Linked DNA regions of Homo sapiens: regions 2 and 3 are each linked to region 1. Evidence: fine-mapped expression QTL. A gene starts in region 1. Each other region holds a variant in brackets. All regions are shown on one strand. Distances are from middle to middle.

Region 1 (8,317 bases):
CTAATATAATTCAAAGTTCATTATGCTCATTAAGGAGTCCAAGCCATGAATGATTCATTTCCTGTAGAATATAGCACTGCTCACCTGATACCTTGTTGTCTTCAGAAACCAGTGACAGACTTGCACTGTCTGTCCCCTTGAAGACAGATTGTCATGTGGCTTGTTTTGGTCACTAAAAAGTGAGCAAAAGTGACAGGCATGAATTCCAGGCAGAGAAAGCTGGTGTACAACCCTCTGGCTGCACCCAACTATGTTAGTTTCCTGTGTCTGCCATAATGAAATCACCACAACTGGGTGGCTTAAAACAATAGAAACTTATTCTTTCGTGGTTCTGGAGGCTAAAAGTCCAAAACCAAGGGGCTGACAAGGCCGTGCTCCCTGTGAAGGATCTGGGGAAGAATCCTTCCTTGCTCTTTCAGATCCTGATGGCTGCTGGCAATCCTTGGTGTTCCTTGCCTTGTAGAAGCATTGCTCCAATCTCTGCCCCCATCTTCACTTGATGTTCTCCCGTGTGTGTGGGGGGGGTGGGGTGGGGGGAGTCTAGCCTGTGTCTCTGTATCCAGCTCTCCCTCCCATTTCTCTTATGAAGACACCAGCCATTGAATTTAGAACCCACCCTAATATAGCATGACCTCATCTTAAGTTGATTACGTCTGCAAAAACCCTATTTCCAAATAAGGTCACGTCCACAGGTACCAGGGCTTAGGCCTTGAAAATAACTTGCTAGGGGTCACAGTATAGGCCACTACACTGGCAATCATGAAGCACATGTTGAAATGGAGCCTTATCAGTCAGCCTGAGTCCCAAATTGACTGCCGTGAGACAGGCCTGTGTCTCCCAGCTCACTTCATTTCAGTCACGTGGCCCCCAAGTAAAGAGACAGGCTGAATCATCTGCACCAGGTAAAGCTTCCATCTCTCTTGCTTTTTGGTGACTACCTTTAACGGATTCATATACATGACATGAGTCTGTACTGTATATGATCTTCTCGTAACTGTCTCTGGACTGTCCTTCATGGGACATATTCCTGTTGCTGGTCACTTACTGAATGCCTGCCATATGCCTATTATCGTGCTGTGTGCCAAGAGGGATGCATAGAAAATTAGACACAAGGATCCTAATCATGAAAAGTGTACAATCTAATATAGTGGGCAGGACAGAAAAGACTTATATCAGCATTGGCTGAAATTGTCAGGGGAGACCAAATAATAAGGCTTAATAAGAGGTAACCCTAACAGAGCTCCCAGTCTGTTCCAGGCACTGTGATAAGCATTTTGCAGGTATTATTAAATTCCATAGGGGTTGTACCCCATGAGGTTGGTATTTTATAACCATTTTACAAGACCGGAAACAGAGGCTTCAAAAGGTTGTGTAACTTGCCCAGTGGTCACACAGGATTCCAATCCTGATCAGCCTGTCTCACAAACATTGGGTTCTATAGACGCTCCTAGATTGCATTTTCGTTTAAGCTGAGCCTTGATGGTCTGCTGGAATATGGTAGGCTACACTTTACACACACAAGGCTCATTTCACCTAATACAGTTATGCCTGGGCAGAAGTGATCATGTGGCAATATCAACAGGTTACAGTAATAGAAAAGAATCAATAAACTACTGTTTCATTTCTATGTCATTGTTGCTAAGTTGTCCCAACTACCTTTTTTAATGGACTAATCCAAACTCTTTTTTTTTTTCATTTTTCCCTTTATAACAATTGAAGTCAGACTTCATTTTTCAAACTTGGCCTCAGATACAAAGATGACATATCAAGAGCCTTCATTTCTCTCCTAAAGCATTAAAGCAATTAAAATTTCCAAAAGAACATGAAACTAAACAACCCTATTTTTAAGTGTTTCCAAACTTATTTCTTTTTTTTAAACTTGTTTCAAAACAGCCTTATGAGGACTGTTTTCCAAACAGCTGTGTAAGAAGCCAGCCACTTTTGAAATCTGATTTTTCCTGTGTAGACATATCATATTTTCTATGCTTGAAGAAGCAGGGAATACCCAAGCTGGCATTCAATAGTAGCGAATATGAAATAGACCATTAAAAGAAAGTCATAGGAATGTTAAAATCCATGTTGACTGGTTTTTACATTTACCCGGCAGCATTCCCGAGCTAGCGTTGGCATGGAGACTGGAAAAGGAAACTTTCCACAAGTCTGTCACTTGCTACTGTTTCTACTTACTCCACTGTGAGTCCAATTTTAACATTTTTTTAAGTTGAAAAAAGGGTTTGACTCCTTTTGTGTTTTCTGTTCAAGGCGTTTTTTAAACATGAGAACACGTGTGAAAAAGGTTTTTAAAAATCAGCCAAAGATTGGGGTTTCCAAATATTCAGCTGTTTAACATTCAGATAATTGCCTGCCTTCCCCCCGCTATCCCCCACATTTCGTCTGAATGCTTTGGCACGGGGGAGCCCCACAGTCTGAAAGTAACTCTGTCCCAACTCTCCTTACTGCATTTATTAAAGAGGCTGAAAGACGCATCTGCTTTTCAATAGTTTGCGGTTCTTAAGAGACCAGGAAAGCCAGAGGTTCTGACTATTCAGGAAGAAAGTTGGGTTTCCCAAAACGGGCAAGCAAGTTCGGTGTGGTCACATCTAGGTATTCTTGACGTCATTTTTGTTGAGGGAAACAGGCTGCAGTTTTTGGAGCCAGGCTAGGATGAGAGATGGAGGGCAAATCTGTCACTTATTCTTTCCTGGTGTGCCTGGAACCCACTAGACACTCAATTCATGTTTACGTGAATGAAGGAATCACAATAACGCCCTATCGCATCTGTAAAACCGAAGGGTGATTTTCCTGGGCTGGAAAGTTTAAGAAAGAAGAGAGAGCTGCGTACCTAGGGCTTAAGGGGCCTCAGGCTGGCACTCGAAACCAGGCGTTCTCATTTCCCTTTGGCATCACCCTGAACGGCTGTGCCTGGAGCTGGCGCGGGGCTGAAGAGGGGAGGAAATACATGTGAGGAAAATCAGAGGAGAGGGTCGGGAACAGATGTGGGCATAAAGGGAAGGCCTCTGACTTGAAATAAACAAATAGGAGTCCCGCAGCTGGAAGGACAAATCCTTTCACGTCGCGGGTGATGTGGGATTGGGGCGATTTTGCTCTCCCTTTGTTCTTTCCCCTGCCTTCCACGTTTCCAGGGTATTTGATTGATGTCTGTCTTCTCTGTTAAGTTATTCCACCGTGAGGAGAGAGCCGGTGGCAGTACCTGGCACGCAGCGGGCGCCCAGTATAGACCTGCTGAACAAACGAATGGATTCAGGGGCTGCTGTGTCCCCCTCACCCACCCCCCGCCCCCTATGTGTCCACAGCGCCCCGCACGTAGTAGGCGACCCCTAAACATCTGTACAGCAAATGATTTGCAAGTTTTCGGCGCTGAGCACGTGGAGCTTTGGAAACCAGGACAGCAAATGAGTGTCTCGGAGACCACAAAAGCGGTTCCGGCGCGTGCGAAAGGCGGTGGCTGGGCGACGGCGGAGGGAACGGCGCAGAGCGGGGCGCCCCGCCGGGAGCGCTGCCTGCGTGGCGCCCGAGGCGGGGGCGCGGGGGGCCGCGCATAGCACGTGCTCGTCTGGGAGCCGGCCGGGCCGAGGCGGGCGCGCGTGTGCGCGTGGGGCGTGGGGTGTGTGCCCGCGCCGTGCCCCCCGCGTGTGCTGCCGGGCGGGCGCCGGCGTGAGTCACGGCGGGGCTAGCCTTTATAACGGCCCGGAGGCTCGCGGGAGCCGCCGCGCCCGTCCGCCCGCCGCTCCGCGCTCCACCCAGCGCACCCGGGCCCCGCGCCCCCAACTGCCTCCGGCGGCCGCCCAGTCCCGAGGGCGCCATGAGGAGCCTGTGCTGCGCCCCACTCCTGCTCCTCTTGCTGCTGCCGCCGCTGCTGCTCACGCCCCGCGCTGGGGACGCCGCCGTGATCACCGGGGTAAGCGGCCCGGGCGCACCTGTCTGCCCCTGATGCGCGCCTGGGATGTGCCCAGGGGGCTTGGGACGGGGACCCTGAAGGGCAGGCTAGAGGCAAAGGGAGGGTCGCCCTGGGCGGGGACACCTGCCCCTGTCGCCCCTTGGTGCACTTGGGAAAATACCCAGATCCAAAAGCAGCAGACGGCTGGGGACACTGGGCGCGTCCTGGAAGAAACAGTGACAAGGATGTCGCCCACCACCTTTATTACCACCTTCTCCCGCTTACTTCTCCCTCATCACCCACGGCCTCACTCCTCGCATTTTTCTTCTGTTAGGCTGAAAGAAGTTTCTCTCTGAGTCTTCTCAAGTACTTTTGGAGGCTCTCCAACCTCGAACCTTAAAATTTGACGGCCCCTTCCTGAAATGCAAAGGACCAAGACGAATTCCCCAAGTGCCCAGAGTCTTAATCCTACAGTCAAAGAGTTTGCTCCCCGATGCGTCCTCCGCAGAAACCCTTTGAAATCGCTTGGTCCAGGGCCATGTGAGCGCTTTGAAAAGCAATTGTGGGAGCTTCCTTCTGGGTTCCGGGGCTTTCCCCCGCGCTCAGGGTCTTGAGGTATCCCCATAAAAGTTTTAAATTTCTAATTCCTGGCAAAGCACCTCCAGTGCTCCAGCATAATGATGGAGTAGGTTGCTGTGTAGATGTTTAAACTTAGAGACGATGTTTTCATCTTTTCTGTAAGTAGGAACTAGTTCAGTTCTCTCCCACTCTCAACAATTTTGTGTGGATCTGAAAAAATTGGGTTTGCAGTACAATACTAAATAGTCTAGTTTACATTAACAAGGCAAAACTGCTATCATTTCCTGGTTGTTCAACTTCTTTACTGTTTTTTAAGTGAGGAATTATTTCACACCTTCATTAAATTACTTCAAATATTTAAGTGCACATAATGGGATTTAAATAAAACGTCTATGTTTGAAATGTTGATACATAGATAATATCATTTGACTTTAAAGGAAGTATCTTTGTCTTGAAAAAATCAAGCTCTATTTTCTCTATATTAGTTATTAGGTTTATAGAATTTTGAAAGTCCTTTTGCTATGACAGCATTTGTATATATCCAACAGATATTTAACTGTAAGCTCTGTGATATTTATTAGAAAAGAGATTTTTTCAAAAAATTACTTGCATAGCTTTGCCAGTCCATGTGGTTGAGAAAAACTTTTTGCAGGTCTTTCTAATACATGAGAATTGAAACATGATTGGATTTTTTTCTCCCTCTTCTCCTGCTGGCTCATTTAAAGTTTCTCCTAATCCTCTGAGCCCAAGATCCCTTTGCAATATAAGTATCTTTTTGTTCCATTCACAGGACAACACTATCTGAATAGATTTGCAATGGGTTAAGGATGAAGGGCATTAGGAAACAGCTGTCTAATTAAAAATATATAAACCTATGCAACTCTTTGTAAATTTTCCAAGAACTGAAGCTTTTGTTACAAAATAAAATTTTATCACATTGGCTGTCTATCTGTTAGAGAGGCTTAGACTGGGCTTATTATATAGTTATGTGTGCTGTTTTTGTTGTTGTTATTTTAACTCAGTGTTACAAAAAGAGAATTTTAAAAATGTCTCTAAAGCAACAGGGCAATAAAATGTAGTTATGTCTCCATGACAGGAACCATCTGGATTCAAATGAAAAACTCAGTAACTTATCAAGATACATTGTGTATAGCATGTTAAACATCCAGGTGATTGAATTTTAAAAGATTTTGGCTGGATTTTTGATTGGTTCATAAAAAAAAGCTCATGGGGCCTCAAAATTCGAGGTATTGAGCATCTGTTGAAATAAAATGCTGGCTAAAACTTTCACCTGACATCCACAGTTTTTTGGGTAGTGTATGTAGGTATTTTGAAATTGATTTATATGCCCACATAGATTTGTTAAAACTATATTGTAAAAGATCATTGACTAGACATCTTATTTATGGGATGTAATGGCTACATATACATGATTTCTGGCATGCAGATAAAAATTGGAAAATTGAAACATTTACATATTGTCCTATAAAATCCAAACACCTCAAGGTGAAATTTTTAGCTTTTATCCAGATACTTTGTTTAAATAGACTGAGAAATAAATTCTAATGAGGGAAGTAAATGAACTTTAAAGCAAAATAGTTGGTTACTTTTAATGAGAAATAATGTTAAGAATGTACCCATATTTTTATATCTTGAGAAGTTATGACTGTCCTCAAAACTAAGAATTTTGAAGGACTGTTTTAGTTGTTTCCACTAATTGTACATTTAAATTTGTGCCTAGATGATAGAGGTTTTAGTTTCTTACATATATAGTACAGGATGTTTTTATCTTATCACTACCAAAACAGATTACTGCCCACGGTTCAAACAAAGCATTCTATTTTTTGTTGGTTCTAGGAAAGAATAATAGTTCTTCAGATCCATTTTCATGCAAATAGATTTAGATTTTATTATTTATTTCTATTTACTAGAGTATGGAAATTCCTCCATAGTTGATTGTTTCATTGTATGTATTTACAACTTTTATATTGAAAGCAGGTGACTTGAGTAATTACTATTGACAATTGCACCTGTTACTTGCATTTCTTAATTTGATGGATCTTACAGGATTGTTAGCTGATTTTGTAATGTACATATATGTTTATGCTAAGCCAGTAATTTGCTCTTTGCAGCTTATTCACCTGAAGGAAGAGTAACATAAGGCAAGCATCTTGGTCTGTCCACTTTCAAACTATGAGACTTCTTTAAAGAGAAAATGGTGAAAAAGCAAGTCAGTGGTGTGAGAAACGTCAAGTCTCTTGAACCAAAATGCAAATATTTGAAGGGGAAAATGAGCACTTCTGAAATTTACATCAGTGCCTTTATGGGTCTGGAGTGTTTCATGCCAGATTTAGAGACTATTTAAATCTCTTTTTTTAAATTGGCCCCAGTGTATTCTGCAGTTAATAGTCACAAAATCTTGTGATTCCATTTATGTAGTTCCTAATGGCCATGTGTAGTATAAGAGTAATATAGTCTTGTTCTTCAAGTTCAAAGCCAATTCAGCCATAAAGCACTGGAAAAAGAGAGCTGATTTCATTTAAAAAAAAATCTTATGTTTATTTAAGATTTTCATAATCCAGGGGCTAGAATTTAGCCCACTTTCGAAAAATGAGAAATAGCTATTCTGATCAGATTTTATAATAGCTATATACAAGTAAATGAAGGTTATCATTTAAAAAATATACCTGATTATTAAAGTCCAAGTGTTTAGATATTTAAAGGGCATTTCACTGCTAATTTTAGGTTTCCTTAGCCTGAGTCTTTCCTGTTATCTATATTTATCTGTTTGTTTATTACATTTCAGGCTTGTGACAAGGACTCCCAATGTGGTGGAGGCATGTGCTGTGCTGTCAGTATCTGGGTCAAGAGCATAAGGATTTGCACACCTATGGGCAAACTGGGAGACAGCTGCCATCCACTGACTCGTAAAGTTAGTATATATATATTTGTATTCATGGTGGTTCTACTGTGGTAACTCTGAGCAGGGTCTGTATGACATGAAGGACTGGGTAACGTGCTCGACAAACAAAATGAATATTGGACATTAGCAAGGATAACAGTGTAAAACTACCCCCTCTCCTCTCCCCTTTCATTTCAAAGAATTGTATCCTCTGTCTTTCTTATTCCAGTGATAGTTTTCATGTTACTGCTCTCATGGTGTTAGAAGCATTTTACCAATATAATTTGCAACACATGAATTTGCTTAAAAGTTATTTAGAACAAAAATATATATTATACTCTAGTATGCATCTTTGCAGAAATCTGAGTATAGAAGTTCTTAAAAAGACTGCTTTTAATATTAGATCTACTGATAAGGCAGAAGTAAGGAAGCTCTGTGTTTTGGGATTTTTTAGAAAATCGATTATACAATTACTCTTGTATGTTAGTTTAAATATTCTATATTTTGACTCTACCTACAGGACACATTTTTCAAAATTTTAGAGATCGATGATATTTAATTTTCCAATTTGCTTTATTATCTGTCAGCTCAATATCACAGTGACCTAAATAACACTTTTGAAAAGTTATTAACAGTAGTGGCATGATCATAGGGTGGCAGGATTGGACAGGGTTTGAGAGATTGTATCTCCAAGGGTTGCAGACCCACCTGTCTACAGGGGTCAGGAAGGTTTATATTACATGAGGAAGCGGGTGGGTGGGAGGCAGAAGGCATGTGGAGCTGGAGGTTCTTGGCCTTCTGGTTGAAAACCTTTGAAACACAGTGTGGTCTCAACAGAGCACCCCAGGAATGCCAGGTTGCATTGCCTTCCTCTGGTCCCACCTCCGCATTTTTCCCATTGGTAAAGTGCCTCCAGTGGCGTTGCAACAAGTCCTAGG
Region 2 (8,675 bases), 47 kb after region 1:
TCATTTCAGAATACTTCCTAATGTCCTTTTGATTTCTTTTTTGATCCATGAGTTATAGAGAAGTGTGTTATTTAGTTTATAAGTATTTGGGGGATTCCCAGAGATCTTGCTATTATTGATTTCTAATTAAATTCCACTGTATCAGAGAACATACTTGTATGACTTGAGTTCTGTTAAGTTTATCAAGACTTTTATGACCCAGAATATGGTCTATCTTGGTAAACATTCTGTGTACCCTTGAAAAGAATGTGTTTTGTATGGTTGTTGGGTGAAATGTTTTGTAAATGTCAGTTGGGTCAAGATGGTTGATAGTGTTGTTGAAATCTTTTATGTTCTTACTAAATTTCTGTCTACTTGTTCTAGCAGTTATTGAGAGATGAGTGTTGAAATCTCTGGCTATAATTCTGGATTTGTATTTCTCCTTGCACTTCTAACAGTTTTTGTTTCATGTATCTTGGGGCTCTGTTATCAGGAGTAAAAAATATTTAGAATTATTATATCCTCTTGATGAACTGACTCATTTATATTACTAATCGACCCTCTTCATTCCAAATAATATTCTTTGCTCCGGAATTTACTTAGTGTGATATAAATATAGCCTCTCCAGCTTTCTTTTGATTAGAATTAGCACAATGTACCTTCTTTTTTTACTTTAAAAATTATTTCATTGTAGGATATGCTCATAACATCAAGCTAAGGATCAATGTAACTCCTACTTTTGCTTACAATCTATGCCTGGGATTCCAGGATGTGTGTGTGTGTGTGTGTGTGCGCGTGCATGTGCATGTGCATGGATGTGTTTTTTTGTTTTTATTGTATTTTATTTTATTTGAGATGGAGTCTCACCCTGTTGCCCAGGCCAGAGTGCAGTGGTGCAGTCACATCCACTGCAACTTCTGCCTCCTGGTTTCAAGCCATTCTCCTGGCTCAGCCTCCCAAGTAGCTGGGACTATAGGTGAATGCCACCACACCCGGCTAATTTTTTGCATTTTTAGTAGAGACAGGGTTTCACCATGTTAGCCAGGATGGTCTTGATCTCCTGACGTTGTGATCCACCCACCTCAGCCTCCCATAGTACTGGGATTACAGGCGTGAGCCACCGCGGCCGGCTGGGATGTGTGGTTTTTAATGAATTCTTACAATTCTTTTGTTCCTTTAACAGGTTTTCTCATATATTCCTGGACAATAGTAGGTACTCAGTAAATATTTGGTTGTTTCGTTTTGTTGTTTTTCGAGACAGGGTCTTGCTCTATCGTCCAGGCTGGAGTGCAGTGGCACGATCTCAGCTCATTGTAACCTCTGCCTCCTGGGTTCAGGTGTCCTCCCACTTTAGCCTCCCAAGTAGCTGGGACTACAGGTGCACACCACCATGCCCGGCTAATTTTTGTATTTTTTGTGGAAATGGTGTTTTGCCATGTTGCCCAGGCTGGTCGCAAACTCCTGGACTCAAACGATCCACCTGCCTTGGCCTCCCAAAGTGCTGGGATTGCAGGCAGGAGCCACCATGACTGGCCAATATCTGTTAAATGGAATGTTTGAGTCTACTACATGCAGAAAGAAAAATGCACACTCTGTCCTTTAGTTTTAATCTATTGTTGCCTTTATATTTAAAGTGCATTTCTTGTAGGCAGCCTTATTGTTGGTTCTTGCTTTTATATTCAACCAAATAATGGCTGAAATTCAATTGGGAATATTTAAACTGTACATTTAATGCGAATATTAATATGGTAAGATTTAAATCTGTCATCTTGCTTTTTGTTTTCTATTTGTCTTAACTGCTCTTTGCTTCCTTTTTCCTATTTTTATGCTTTCTTTTAGATTAATTAAATATTATTTATAATTTCTTTTTATCTCTTTTGTTGGATTATTAGTTATAATTCTTTGCTTTGTTATTTTAGTGCTTTATTTAGGATTCACAGTGTACATTTTTAACTTATCACAGTCTACCTTCAAGTGATATTATACCTCTTCACATACACTATAACAATTTACAGTGGCATATTCTCATTTCTCCCTCCCAACTTCTGTGCTGTTATTGTCATAGATTTTTCTTTTATTCATGTTATAAAGCCCATAGTACATTGTTATTATTTTTATTTAAACAGTCATTATTTTTTAAAGAGATTTTAAAAATACCAAAATTATGTTATATTTTACCCATGTGGTTATCATTTCCAGTGCCCTTTGTTTCTTTCTGTACATCTACGTTCCCTTCTGGCATCATGTTCCTTCTTCTTGAAGGAATTCCCATGACATTTCTTTTTTTTTTCAGACAGAGTCTCACTCTGTCACCCAGGCTAGAGTGTAGTGGTGCCATCACGGCTCACCGCAGCCTCAATCTCCCAGGCTCAGGTGATCCTTCCACCTCAGCCTCTTGAGTAGCTGGGACTACAGCCATGCGCCACCACACCTGGTTAATTTTTTAATTTTTTGGTAGAGACAGGGTTTCACCATGTTGCCCAGACTGGTCTGGGGCACATAGCCTCAGGTGATCCTCTGGCCTTGGCCTCCCAAAGTACTGGGATTACAAGCATGAGCAACTACTCCCAGCCTGTGACATTTCTTATGGTGTTGATTTACTGGTAGTGGATACTTTCAGCTCTTGCATATCTGAAAACATCTCTATTTCTCTCTTTTTGTTTTTGTTTCACTGATTTTCTCTATTATTTTTCTGTTTTGATTTTATTAATTTTTTATTTTATTAATTTCTGCTCTTTATTTTTCTCTTCCTTATGCTTGCTTTGGGTTTACTTTGCTCTTCTTTTCCTAGTTTCTTAATGTAGGAATTTAGGCTGTTAATTTGAAACCTTTCCTCTTTTGTAATGTAAGCATTTAGTGCTGTAAGTTTCCCTCTCAGTAGTGCTTTAGCTGCATCTGACATGCTTTAATATGTTGTATTTTCATTTTCATTCAGGTCTATGTATCTTTGAATTTTCTTTGAGACTTCCTTTTTAACCCATATATATATATATATATATATATATATACTGTTCAATTTTCAGGCATTTGGAAATTTTCTGGTTCTTTTTCTGGTATTGATTTATTTTACATTTGTTAAGTTTTGTTTTATGGTTCAGAATGTAATCTATCTTGGTGAATATTCCATGAACTCTTGAAAAAAAAATTGTGTTCTGCTAAAGTGCTATATATGACAAATAGATCCTGCTGTCTGATTTGTTGTTCATTTCTTGTATATCCTTGCTGATGTTCTGTCTAGCAGTTCTATCCATTGCTGAGAGTGGGCTGTTGAAGTTCCCAGCTATAATTTTCTATTGCCTATCTCCTTTCAGGTCTGTCAAGTTTTGCTTCATGTATTTTGAGCCTCTCTTGTTCGGTGCACATATATGTAGGATCATTATGTCTTCCTGGAGGGTTGATTCTTTTATAATTATGTAATGTCCTTCTCTGTCTCTGTTAACTTTACTCTAAAATCTGCTTTATTTGATATTTATATAGCTACTCTTAACTTTGTGGGGTTATTGTTACATGATATCTCTTTTTTCATTTTTTTTCCCTTTCAACCTACCCACATTGTTGTATTTGAAGTGAGTTTTTTATAAATAGCATTTTGTTGCGTCACGTTTTTTTGCTGTTGTGTATTTGCTTGTTATTTAATCCACTCTACCTGGTGGGGGTAAAAGTCTAAGATTCTCACTTGGCCTTGCTGGCTTAGGTAGGGGAAGGATCACAGTTTTTTCTGTTGCATTTGGCTGGCATAGTTAGTTTTCTGTCTTGCAAGGCTGCTCCTTTGGCTAGAGAAACTAGACTCTTCTTGTCTGCGCTTGTTAGCATTTTCAGGTTGCCAGCTTCTCCATCTCTGAGTCTAAGAGATATGAGACAAAAAGAAAACCCAGGGAAGTTATTGCTGTGTTGTTCTTTAACTACTGAGGTCCCTAACTGGTATTCCACTTTTTGGCCTCTTTCAGAGTCTTCTTATGTTTATTTTATATAATGTTCAGGGTTTTTCACTATACTTCGTGGGAGGAATTGAGAAAGCATGTCTTATTCCATCTTTCTGGCAGAGAATCTTCTCCATTTTTGAATAGATATTTCACTGAGTATAGAATTCTAGGTTGACAGGTTTTCTTCTTTCAGTACTTTAAAGAGATTGTTCTGTTATCATCTTAGTTGTATGATTTCCTATGAAAAAAATCTCTGTTGTTGTTGTTTTTTGTTTGTTTGTTTGTTTGTTTGTTTTTTGGTAGAGATGAGAGTTCTTGCTATGCTACCCAGGCCGGTCTTGAACTCCTGGCCTCAAGCAATCCCCCTGCCTTAGCCTCCCCAAGTGCTGGGTTTACAGATGTGAGCCACCACACCCAGCCTAATTCTTATTTTGTTCCTCTGTATAAAATGTGTCTTTTTTTCTGCACTGTAGCAGTTTGATTATGCCCTTGCCCTGCCTTGGTGTGATTTTCTTCATGTTTTTTGTGATTGGAGTTCATTGAGATTCTTGAATCCAAGGGTTTATTCCTCTTAAGCAGTCACTCTCTAAAAGCAGGTGGCTCAACCCACCTTACAGTAAAAATTAGACTGCTATTAATTTGTAGTTGAACTCTGATATTTTCCAGGTTCTAAATTGTTTATTTAATAGGTGGTCATATGTTTTGTACACCAGATATTCAAGCACCTTCTGCCACAGTGCTCTGTTTTGAACATTTAGGGCATAACTTGAATATTTTCATAAGTCAAAGACTCACCTCATTTTCCAGATCATAGAGATGACTTCGGAGAAGTGAAACTTTTCCTAAAGTTTCCTGAAGTTGCAACTGTTAGGAGCACAGGCAGACTTAGGGTTTGAACTCCATACCTCTTGCTGGGTGATGATGGGAATGTTATTTAACCATTTTGAGCCTCCGGTGTGTAAAGTGGGAGATGATAATCATACTTGTTAATACCTCATCAGGTTGATATGTGAATTAGATGAGAATAGTTAAGGATTCACAAAATGGTAGCTATTGTTGCTGTTGATATTTTTCTTTAATAGACTTTCTTTTTTTAGAGCAGTTTCAGGTTCACAGCAAAATTGAGTGGAGGGTACAAGGAGTTTTCCATTTATCCTATCCTCA[T/C]TTATGCATAGCCTTCTCCATTATCAACATGCCACACCAGATGGGTGCATTTTTTATAATCAAGGAGCCTATATTGACACATCATTATCAACCAAAGTCCATAGTTTACATTAGGGCTCACTCTCGGATTTGTATATTCTATGGGTTTTGATGAGTGTCCAATGACATGTATCCACCATTATAGTATCATTCAGAATAGTTTTATTTTCATAAAAATCTTTGCTCCGCCTATTCATTCCTTCCTCTCCTACACCTGAACCCCTGACAACCCCTGATCCTTTAACTGTCTCCATAGTTTTGCCTTTTCTGCAATGTTATGTTAGTTGGAATCATACAGTATGTGGCTTTTCAGATTGGCTTCTTCACTTAGTAATATGCATTAAAGTTTCCCCAATGTATTTTCATGGTGTAATAGCTCATTGCTTTTTAGCAGTGAATGATATTCCATTGTCTGGATGTACCATAGTTTACTGATCTACTGACTGCTAAAGGACATCTTGTCTCCTTTCAAGTTATGGCATTTATGAATGTAGCTGCCATAACCATCTCTGTGTGGGTTTTTGTGTGGACGTAAATTTTCAGCTCAATTGGGTAAATACCAAGGAGTATAATTGCTGGATCATATGGTAAGAGTATGTTTAGTTTTGTAATAAACTGCCAAACTGTCTTTCAAAGTGGCTGTACCATTTTGCATTCTTACTAGCATTGAGCGAGAGTTCCTGTTGCTCCACATCCTCACCAGCATTTGGTGTTACCAACGTTTCGGGATTTAGACATTCTAATAGGTGTATAGTGGTATCTCATTGTTTTAATTTGCAGTCTCCAGTGACATATGATATTAAGCATCTTTTCTTGGTACCTATTTGCCATCTGTATATCATCAGCAAGATGTTTGCTCAGGTCTTTTGTCCAATTTTAAAATCATGGTGTTCATTTTCTTATTGTTGAATTAAAAAATTTCTTTGTAGATTTTGGAGCTATTGGTATTTTTATTTGAATTACTATTATCTTAAGTGCTTGGACAAGAGTTTCATTAAGACCTCAGCATTTTAACCAGTAAAACATGAAAATGTTTTCTTCTCATTTTTTGGAGGGAGGTGGATAAATGATCTTCACTTGAAAAAAAAAAAATGAAAAGATGTTCTGGGTTACTTTGATCCAGAAAGAACTTCAGGCTGCCTCTTAAGTAGAGCTGTGACTTCATGGGCCCTTCATGCTCTAATAACCTCCCCACAAAATTAGTTTGTGCCATGTGTTTTTCAACAATTGCCTTATTAAGGAGTGGGAAGTACCTGCTTAGCACAGTATTGCGTTTCTTTGTTAGGAATCTGTGGATTCACAAGGTGCTCTGCTGTTATCAGGGTGGTGACATTACACCTATTAGCAAGTCTCCTCAACTTGCAGAGAACTGCTCTGGCCTGGATCATTCTGTAGAAAAACTAGTTACTAATGCTATTGAAGAAAAATATGTCCCATGATAGATGGAGGTATTATATTATCTGATTTCCATTCTCCCACCCTTCACTATGCATCAATAGATTTATATCATAGGATTCATTTTCGTTTTATGTCTTTTTATTTACGCACCAATTCTTTTGCAAGTAATTTTAATTCTTCGTTTTATGAGAATGAGGCTCTGTGCCTGTGTACTCCTATGTAAAATAAAGGAAATTATTGTTTTTAATGCAGATTTGAAAAAAATATAATGGATTTCAGCTACACCAATCTCTCCCCATTTAGATGAGATGAACACCTAGTTAGATGGGGAACGTCATTCCTCATATAATTTGAATACATCCTGTTTCCATGACAACTTGTACTTACCAGCTTGCCTGGTAAAAGAAGTGCTTGAATTCTTCCTCTGATAAAAGATTTGACCAACCACTGGGGCCCCAGTTTCTTAATTCCAATAATTTCATTCCAGCCTGGGGCCAGTTTTCTTTTTAACATGGGATGATGTTGAGGATTAGAAACCAAAAAACCATTTTAGAGGTGAATTCACCTCCAAAATAAAAGGAGAGGACTCATAGGCCAAATACTAATGAGCACGAGAAATGAAGATACTTGTGCAGGTCATAGTCATTTTCTGATATCTTCCAGTTAAATTGAATCAACAGAGATGATGCAACAACTTATTAAGATGCTATTTGATTTGACAAAGAATGATTCAGTTATTCATTTCCATCTGGACGTTATAATCAGTTGGCTTGTTTTTTTCACTGCTAATTTATATCTTGCCTTTATGGGTGGCTTGTGCCCTCTTACTGCTGAATTTCAATTCTAATAAGGAGTTTGGTTTTATTAATGATTTTCCCTCAGAATGAAAAATAGGAAATTATTTGCATCATTAACTGTGCTTTTGCAAACTATGAAAAACATGATACTGCATTTAATTGACAAATTTATGTTTCATGTGTTATAAAATATTTTAGTCCAATAAGGCAAGCAGACATGACCCTTAGGCATTTTAGGAATGATAGGGACTCATCCCAAATTTAGGATAATTCACAGTGTATTTCTGAGTGACCTGGTAGGTTTTGAAAGGACGAAAGTGACTCAGCTATCTCCAAGATCATTGTCAACCACAGTATATATTTGTGACATCAAATACTTGTATAAAGTCATCTGAGGGATACCATGTTCATCATAGCCTCCATGAGAGCTCCTCTTTTGTAATGATGACCTAGTATGATCAATATGTGCATCTTTTTAGCCTCTGGGAATAAGATACTGTCTTACCACAAACACTAAGAAAATTTAAAGCAAATACCATAAGGTGCAACCTGCCATTATGTAGATAATATGTAACTAATAAGAATGAACAGGAAAAGAGTGAAAAATTAACAGGATCTTTCTGTATTGTGAGTATGCAATTCCTGCTGATGGTAAAACAAAAGAGATTCAGTAACTGAAGGGGTCTCATTGGCCTAAACACTGCAAGTGTCCTTCTGTTTCTGAATGGTGCATTTTGCACAGTAGTTAGAGTTCTAAAAATGTCATGTAATTATGATTTTTTTTAGAAAACAAATAATGCAGCTTCCTTTCAAGAATTGCTTTATTTTCCTTTACTAATTGTTCATCAATTGATAATGGCTTCTCAAACTTTAGTGTACTTAGCTCTTAAGAAGTAAATGACTTATAAAGTATTTCAATCTACACTTTAATGAATGGTTTTAAATCACAGAAGGATTCATTATTCAGATATTTATTGACTTCCCAGTACATGAGCAGTACTTTATAATAGTCTCTGAGGACCTCAAAGGTGAGCTCCCCACCCCTCAGGAAGCTTGGGTTAAATATGGTACAGGGAAAGATGGTACAGGAGGTCTTTTTGCAGCCTGACTCATAACCTCCTAATATTTTGCCAAATCAGCTTATATTTTCTGTATCAAGATTTCTTATGTCATAAATATGATTATTTCAGCTTAAAATAAAGCTTCGGAAAGCACAATACACTTCCTCAGAGAACTGGCTTACAAAATGTTCCCCTAAATGATCTATGAACCGTAAATGAAATCCCCAAAACAAAATCTTATCCTTAAAGCAGCTTCTTAGATGTAAACAAATGACTTGCTTGCTGTTGATTTATCCCACTAGGCGAGCAGTTAT
Region 3 (8,675 bases), 65 kb before region 1:
TTCAGCTCTGTTTCCCAGCTCTCAACCCAATGCCCAGCAGCCCATGGGCCCTCCTGGGTGCTGCTAGCTGTCTAGTCATTCAGTGATGGGGTACTTGCTCCCAAGGCAACCCCCATTGCTCTCCTGGGGCTGAAGCGTGATGGAGAAGGCCACTGTTCATTTCCAGCTAGCTTTCTGCTCTGTGCAGCTTTGGCAGAAGTGCCGACTCTTCAAAGGATGGGTGCATTGACATTTCACAACTCTGCATGCTTTCTGATGATTCCTGATAATGCTATCTGCCAAATAGCAGATATTGCTCTCCACGACTAAAAAATGAGATTGCTCAAATGTCCCTCTAGACATCATAGACAGTTTTCATATTCATTCATTTATTCGCGTATTCATCATTCAGCAAATATTTACTGAACACATATTAAGGCACATGCTAGGTTCATGGCTACCGAGGAGGGCAGTAGGAAATGGATCAGTAAAACATGAATGCTCTCTAAAAGCTGAGTTGAAGACACAAAAGCTACTCTTTCTAAGATACCCACTGTGTGCCAGGCATGTGCTAAATAATCTCCATATATTGTCTCCTTTATTCTTCACTATCACTATTGGATATTAGATGAGGCAGCTGAAGATCTGAATGTGAAAGCTTCTTGCTCAAGACCATACAGCTAGTGAGAAACAGAATGGGGATTCCATTCCCAATCTCTGAGATACCAGTGCCTAGTTCTTTCCTCTGTGCTGCACTGCCTCCAAAATAAGGATCAGATTGGAGGTAAGCAGTGACCTTGGACAAAATGCCACCGAAGATCAATAGGGACCAATTCCAGTCATGGGATTGCCGACCACTGCTGGAAGGTGGAAGCCATCCTCGTGGATCCTTCTAACACCTATCCCCTACAATAGATGAAAAGTGAAAATTCAGTTGATTCTAAGGTACTCATGAACCGTAACATGAGATTATTGAATGTTTGGAATCTACTTTCCATTTCTATAAGATGGCACATGCCCAACAGACACAGCCTTCAGCATTTTTCCATTTTACCATGCCTGGCACCAAGCATCTGACCTGCTGCGTTCCATATGGAACAGGATTCTGAGAGCAGACCAGGTGGTACGGTGGTGGGCCTCCCTCTTTGGAATTGGATGTTAGCACTGTCTGTCATTCTAGGGACTGAGAAGTCAACCTGGGAATGATAAGAAGCTAGGGAAAACTTTTCTCCTCCGTATGGGAGACCTTGATCTCTCGGCGGGTGGCTTAGCTGTATCCTTGGCTTGTGGAGGTCTCCTGGGAAGCAGGTAAGTCCCCGAGGATAAGCTCAGGACAGTAGGCTCTGGAAGTGGCAATTCCTGGAGCAGATGTGAGTTATCCTTTCCAACTCCCAAGTCTTCAATAAACTCATTAGAAGAGAAAAAGTAGAAACGGCAAGCATAAATGTTTAATCATCTAGGTTTATATCCTTTCACTGACTAGCTGTGTGCTGCTTCTCAGCTCATTTAACTTCTCTGAGCCTGTGATTTCTTATTTGTAAAATGGGGACAACAATAGTACCTAACTCATAGTATTATTTTAATTACTTTTCCAGACACAGGCTGGCTGTAAACTTAAGAGAATTATCCTAGACATTAAAAGCTATATAATCGTACTTAAAAAATAAATCTTTCCCCAGAGAAGTTCCAATTAGATGTTGATGGGACAGAGTATTTTCATTCTTTTTCTTTTTCCTTTTACTGTTTTTTTTTTCCATTGAAGGAAGTAGAAAAGCATTAGAGCTTATTAATGGAATGATTATTACAAAGGTGCCATAAAGAAATGGGGTTAAGGCCGGGCGCGGTGGCTCACGCCTGTAATGCCAGCACTTTGGGAGGCCGAGGCGGGCGGATCACGAGGTCAGGAGATCGAGACCATCCCGGCTAAAACGGTGAAACCCCGTCTCTACTAAAAATACAAAAAATTAGCCGGGCGTAGTGGCGGGCGCCTGTAGTCCCAGCTACTTGGGAGGCTGAGGCAGGAGAATGGCGTGAACCCGGGAGGCGGAGCTTGCAGTGAGCCGAGATCCCGCCACTGCACTCCAGCCTGGGCGACAGAGCGAGACTCCGTCTCAAAAAAAAAAAAAAAAAAAAAAAAGAAATGGGGTTAAAATGAATGTATAATGATAACACCACTTTGGTTAAACTTATTTATTACTGAACATATTTAAAAAGAAAAATGGATAGTAATTTAATTCCATTTGTAACACTTTCATGAAATTTCCATTAAATGGTGAAGAGTGCATATTTTGAAACATGCTGTTCTATTTGTCTAGGAGAAGAAATTTCATTGCTTTGGAAGCGAGAGGCTGCTGAATAGAATTTCCTCTCATAAATAAGGCATTGTCCTAGAAATCTGGTCTTCTTTATCCCACTATGTTCAGTTGTTCAGCTACTCTGCTAATTGTTGGAATTGGCAGTTTTCAAAGAAATCAACATGAAGAGCTCTGCAAAGTAAAATTGGGCATTTGGTTATAAAATCTGGTATAAAGCCATTACAGTGCACTATTGGGAAAATCAGCGCAGCTTCCAACTTCATGAGCCATTAACAAAGCGTAGACTCTAAACACACAGACATATCTCTTGACAAAGCATAATGTTATAGGTGATTTTCTGGCTGATTTCAATTAAGTGCCTATATTTTTAAATTATTTTAAAAATCACAAATAATTTTTAAGTGATTTGAGGCACTAAATGCTAAGGTTGAAATCTCAGCTTACTAGCTCTGTGACCAAAGTACTTAAGCTTCTTGAAGCTTCAGTTCCTTTTCAACTCTATAAAATGTGAATAAGAATACTTACCTCATGGCTTGAAGTGAGGATTTAGTGAAGTAATATGTAAAGTACCTAGCACACTTCTCAAAAATCTTTGGTATTATTTTCTTAGTTGTCATTATTATTGTAGTTGCAAATGATAGAAACGCAACTCAAATTGGTTTCAAAAATAACAATGATAACATATATTGGGGGCTTACTGTGTGCCACTTGCTGGGATAAACACTTCATCCTAATTATTTTAGTTAACCAAAAGGAATTTTTAAAATTACATAAGTGAAAAACCTAGGTTTGGTCTGGCTCCAGGGAATGCCAGACCCAGATGCTCAAATGAAGTCCTCAGCAGTTTATCTCTTTTCACCTTTCCATTCTCTTCTCTATGCTGGCTTCAGGCTCAGTCAGTCAGGGTCTCTCCATTAGCTATCAGCAATTCCAGGCTTTCATATGAATTCTATAATTCATATGGAACCACAAAAGACCACGGGAAGAATTAGGCTCCTCTAACCCAACAGTTCCAGCAAAAGGACCACATGGCTTTTGATTGAATAGTGCCTTTCTCTGACTAATAACCATGACCGGGAGGATGAACCATTCTGATGAACCTGGCCTGGGTCACTTGCCCACGCATTGAGGATTAAGTATAGGGATTGTAGCACTCGGTTTTCAATTGTTCTACTACAGTTTCTGAAAAGCACACAGAACATCATGAATAAGAAAAGACAAAACTCATGGACAACATCAACATCTTTAGCAAAACTAAGAGATTTTAGAAAACCTCAAACCCCAAGGTAGCAGAACTGGCATGAAATCAACCATGGTGCAACAGGAAGGAAAGCAGAATGCTGAAATTTCCTACAAACTGCAAATCTCCCA[A/G]TGACCAAACACAGGAGAGGGTTGCACCTTGAGTGAGAACTGCTGTGAGCTAATTTGAGAACAAAGAGCAAAATGAGGAGCCTGGGAAAGGAAGTCCTTATACCAAATTATATTTCTATAAATGGAATGGCCTGCAAGTCATGTCACCTCAGTAGAAATGAACACCACAGTACCTGGATTTTCTTCAATAGAAGAAAATCCTTCTTAAAGGACCTGGCACTCCTTAGAGAAATGGCGAGTCTGAAGCAAAGAAGATACTTGGTGAGCCGGAGGCGGCTTGTTCTACCAGAGAGCAAGTAAATTTCCAGGATTAGTAGATTTGTGTCAAAATAACTTAGAAGGCAGTATGAAGGGGCTTCTTCTGGTTACAGATGGGTCAACTGAGCATCAAAAAGAATAACGATTAAGAAGAACAAGAAATAAAAGGCATTTGAATTGGAAAGGAAGAAGTAAAATTGTCCCTGTTTGCAGATGACATGAAGTTATATATAGAAAACCCTAAAGACTCCATTAGAAAATCCTTTAGAACTATTAATAATAAATAAATTCAGTAAAGTAGCAGGACACAAAACCAACATATCAAAATCAGTTGCATATCTATACACTAACAATGAGCTACCTGAAAAGGAAATTAGGAAAATAATCGTACTAACAATAGCACCAAAAAAGTAAAATACTGGAATAAACTTAACTAAGGGGGTGAAAGACTTGAATGCTGAAAACTACAAAACATTGATGAAAGAAGTTAAACAAGACACAAACAAATGGAAAGACATCCATGTTCATCATTTAGAAGACTTAATATAAAAGTCCCCCTTTATCCATGGGGGATACATTCCAAGGCCTCTGGTGGATGCCTCATACCACAGATAGTACTGAAACCTAAATATACTATGTTTTTTAATCTCATAACTGAGATGACTGCTAAGTGATTAATGGGTGGGTGGCATATATAAGATGGATATGCTGGACAAAGGGATGATTCATGTCTCAGGTAGGACAGAGCAACATAACATGAGATTTCATCACACTGCTCAGAATGGCACAAAATTGAAAACTAATGAATTATTTCTGTAATTTTTCATTGAATATTTTCAGAATGTGGTTGACTGTGGATAACTGAAACCATAGGAAGCAAACCTGCAGACAATTGTTGGGGGAACTACTGTATTGTTAAAATGTTCATACTTTCCAAAGTGATCTACAAATTCAATACAATATCAAAATCCTAATGACATATTTTACAAAAACAGAATTCTATAATTCATATGGAACCATAAAAGACCACAGGAAGGAATATTCAAAATCAATCTTGGGAAAGAAGACCAAAGCTGGAAGCATAATACTTCCCAATTTCAGAATATATTGCAAAGCTACAGTAATGAAAACAGTATAGTATATATGTCTATACTGGCATAAAGACAGACATATGGACCAATAGAGCAAATAGCCCAGAAATAAATCCGTGCATAATACATGGTCAACTGGTCTTCAATAAGGGTATCAAGATATACAATGGGGAAAGGACAGTCTCTAATAAATGATGGGAAACTGGCTATCCATCTGCTAAAGAATGAAATTGGATCCTTATACCATATACAATGGTTATTCATAATAGCCAAGATATGGAAAAAACTAAATGTTCATGAGAAAATTAATAGTGAAATGTGGTATATCCACACAGTGGAATATTATTCAAAGTTAAAAAAGAAGAAATTTCTACTATATGTGACAACATAGCTGAACTTTATGAGAATATTATGCTAAGTAAAGCAGTCACAGAAAGCAACATATTGCATGATTCCACATATTTGAAGTACCTAAAGCAGTCAAATTTATGGAATCACACAGTGGCTCATGCCTGTAATCCCAGCTATCCAGGAGTCTGAGCCAGGAAGATCGCTTGAGCCCAGAAGTTCAAGACCAGCCTGGGCAACACAATGAGACTCCCATCTCAAAAAACTAAAATTTAAAAAAGCGGAATGGTGGTTGACAGGAGCTGGAGCTCTGGGACAGAGGCAACAACAGGCATAAAGTTCCAGTCAAGCAAGATGAATAAGCTCTAGAGATCTACTGTGTAACATGGTGCCCCCAGTCAACAATAATGTATTGAACACTTACAAATTTGTGGGTTTTTTTACAAATTTTTAATTTGTAAATGAGAAATCTCATGTTGTTTTCTTACCACAATAAAATTTAATAAAATAATGATTATAGATAAAATGTATTTAATAAATGAAATGTGTGACTTCATAAAGATACTAAAAAAAGAGAAAGCCTGAAAAGACATTATACGAGATGGCCATTAAACCACTCCTTACTTTTTAGTTGGTCATTAAAGGAAAAAAATTAAACATTTTGCCTTTTCCAGTAGGAACTATATGACAGGATAGCCAACTAGCCCACCTGTTGAAGAGAATCTCTACTTTACAAAAGAACACCAGTTAATGAACGTAGAAGAAACGATAAAGGTTGAAAACCTGATCTTGCAAAACCTAATGAAATTATTGATTTAGGCAAGATTTATATATTAAGTGAGTGGGATACAGAACAAGACATAGGACCAAAGTAACATTATATAAATTCCTTTCTGATCATGTGTCAGTTATTTATTGCTGAGTAACAAATCATTCAAAGAATCTAGTGGCTAAAAACAATAATCATTTCTTATTCTTTATTACTCTGTGGGTCAGCTGGTTGGTTCTTCTGTCTGGGCCAAATTTATTGGTCTCTACGGACAGCTGGTGGCCCAGCTGGGGCTGATGGATCCCAGATGACCTCACTCAAATGTCTGGCAGTTAGCAGAGATGGCTGGATGGCTGAGGCCTCCCTTCACATGGTCTGTTGAGATGATCTAGGATGGCTTGACTCACATCTCTGGGAACTCATCTGGACTAGCTGGGGCCATGCTCCATGTGGTGTCTCATCCTCCAGTAGGCTGGCCTGAGCTCCTTCACGTGGTGGTCTCGAGGTTTCAATAGCAAAAGAGGGAAAGCCCTGGTACACAAGCATTTTCCGAGCCTCTGATTGCATGATGTTTATTAGTATCCTATTGGCTGAACAAAGTTGCATAGTGATGCCCAGATTCAAGAGATGGAGAAATGGACTCATTCTCTAGTTAGTATGTCTAGTAGAATTTTCTTCAATGAAAGAAATATTTCATATCTGCCCTGTCTAAGTGGTAGCCACTAGCCACATGGGGCTATTGAGCACTTGAAATGTGGCTAATACAACTGAGGAACTGAATTTTTCATTTTAATTTATTTAAGCTTAAATTTAAATGGGTACATGTGGCTGGTAGCTACCACACTGAGTAGTGTAGTTCTAGATACAGAATCCCTTATGGTATATTCTAGCCAAAAATGCTTGTCTTGAATCCATCAGTCCTTTAGATCTAACCTATCATTTGCAGGAGATGGAGGGGTACAGGAATCAGCTACATGGCACAGTAAGGAAGCAATCAGACAAATCTAGAAGGTGAGATATTCCACAGGAAAACCAGTCCAGTGTCCTCAACAAGCCAATGTCATCAAAAAGGAAATCAGGATAGACTGGGTAGAAATAAGGACTATATCAGCCAGATTTGATTCTTGAGAGGATTTCTGGAGAGGACAAGCCAGTTATAAAGGTCTTTTTAGCTTAATTGGTGAAATTTGAATATGGTTTAGCTATTCAATGACATAAAAATATACTGAGTGGGCCAGACACAGTGGCTCGGCTGAGGTGGACAGATCACTTGAGCCCAGGAATTCAAGACCAGCCTGGGCAACATAGTGATGCCCTGTCTCTACAAAAAATACAACAACAACAACAACAACAAAATTAGCCCAGTGTGACAGTAGTTGTAGTCCTAGTTACCCAAGACACTGAGGTGGGAGGATCACCTGAGCCCAGGAGGTAGAGGCTGCAGTGAGCAGTGTTTGCGCTACCGTACTCCAGCCTGGGCGGCAGAGTGAGACCCTGTCTCAAAAAAAAAGTACTGAAGTGGAAAGGTAAAGATCATTGGCTGAAAATGTAAGTTTTAAGACAGTAAGTGGAGTGTCATCTCACACTGGTAAAGCAGAATACATACTAATATGTGTGTATATAAATACAAATATATGTACAAATACATAAAGATTCGGAAGCATATGGACGAAGATCTAACATATGGTGATTCTGGGTGATGGTAAGGTGAAGTTTTTGTTTGTGTTTCCTAATTTTCTATAAATATAAATGCACTGCTTCTATACTAGTGAAGAGGTTATTCAATATAAAAGAGATAAAGACGCTACTAAGTGTCTCGGAGGTGCCAGAGACAAGCAGCTATTTTACAGTGTTTATGCGCGTGCGTTTGTTTAGGAAATGCTCTATCCCGATAACGTTGCAGATAATACGTGCGGACAAGGGGAGACCTATGAGGCTCAGCAGCTGCTGAAAGGGTTTAGCTAATCTCGAGGATCTGGTAAGTGGATCACTTCCTTGTGACACCACAGAAGCTCCAGCCATCAATTTGGATTAGTCAGTCAGCATATCCCATTGGGCAGCATGTTCTAGAGTGTTCTAGTATGAATCATTCATGGAGGCTTCTGGTTATGTTACTTGGTTTCCCTCAGAAATAATGGCCCCAGGGATTGAATGCTGTGTAACAGAGAAAGTGAATAAATTGGTGCAGGCCCTGCCAGGTGTCAAACAAATAGGAATATATCACAGGAAAAGTGCTCCATCTATAATTAATGACAACATTTTTAAGCTTTACCAGAAATTGATAATACAGTGGTTTCTTTTAATGCATTTTCCCTTTAGTAATGTGTACATATTTTAAAGTAGGTCTAGCATTAAATATACATCAAACTCTTCTTATAGAAAAATGTAATCGTTGAATAGAAAAATATTATATTTATAAATATCTCATTGTTACATTTTATGCAATTATTCACTCTGGGTGTTCAGTGTAGAAGTTTCAGGAATATAATACTTGTCACAGAAAGCATATTCAAGACTATCAAGTAAAAAAGCAAACTTATGACT

Evidence for each region. PIP is the estimated chance that this variant, and not a neighbour inherited with it, causes the effect. A credible set is the group of variants that fine-mapping cannot tell apart.
Region 2: its variant is the best candidate, but not a certain one, in a credible set for the expression of PROK2 in whole blood (INTERVAL, PIP 0.65).
Region 3: its variant is the best candidate, but not a certain one, in a credible set for the expression of PROK2 in whole blood (INTERVAL, PIP 0.89).

The regions. Positions count from the first base shown.
Region 1 is chr3:71,780,559-71,788,875 of GRCh38, reverse strand. It overlaps PROK2 (prokineticin 2), which reads left to right and starts at 3,728. Exons shown (of 4, transcript NM_001126128.2): 1 at 3,728-3,919; 2 at 7,284-7,409. The coding sequence starts at 3,824. LOC105377156 (a long non-coding RNA gene) reads right to left here and starts at 3,486. Exons shown (of 4, transcript NR_199161.1): 1 at 3,353-3,486; 2 at 3,129-3,240; 3 at 2,843-2,939; 4 at 2,449-2,659.
Region 2 is chr3:71,733,291-71,741,965 of GRCh38, reverse strand. It overlaps a transcript of EIF4E3 not described here. Among named protein-coding and RNA genes, the nearest start is that of EIF4E3, 12 kb to the right of the region's middle. The variant T/C (reference allele first, on the strand shown) is at 5,067.
Region 3 is chr3:71,845,813-71,854,487 of GRCh38, reverse strand. No RefSeq gene overlaps it. Among named protein-coding and RNA genes, the nearest start is that of PROK2, 65 kb to the right of the region's middle. The variant A/G (reference allele first, on the strand shown) is at 3,666.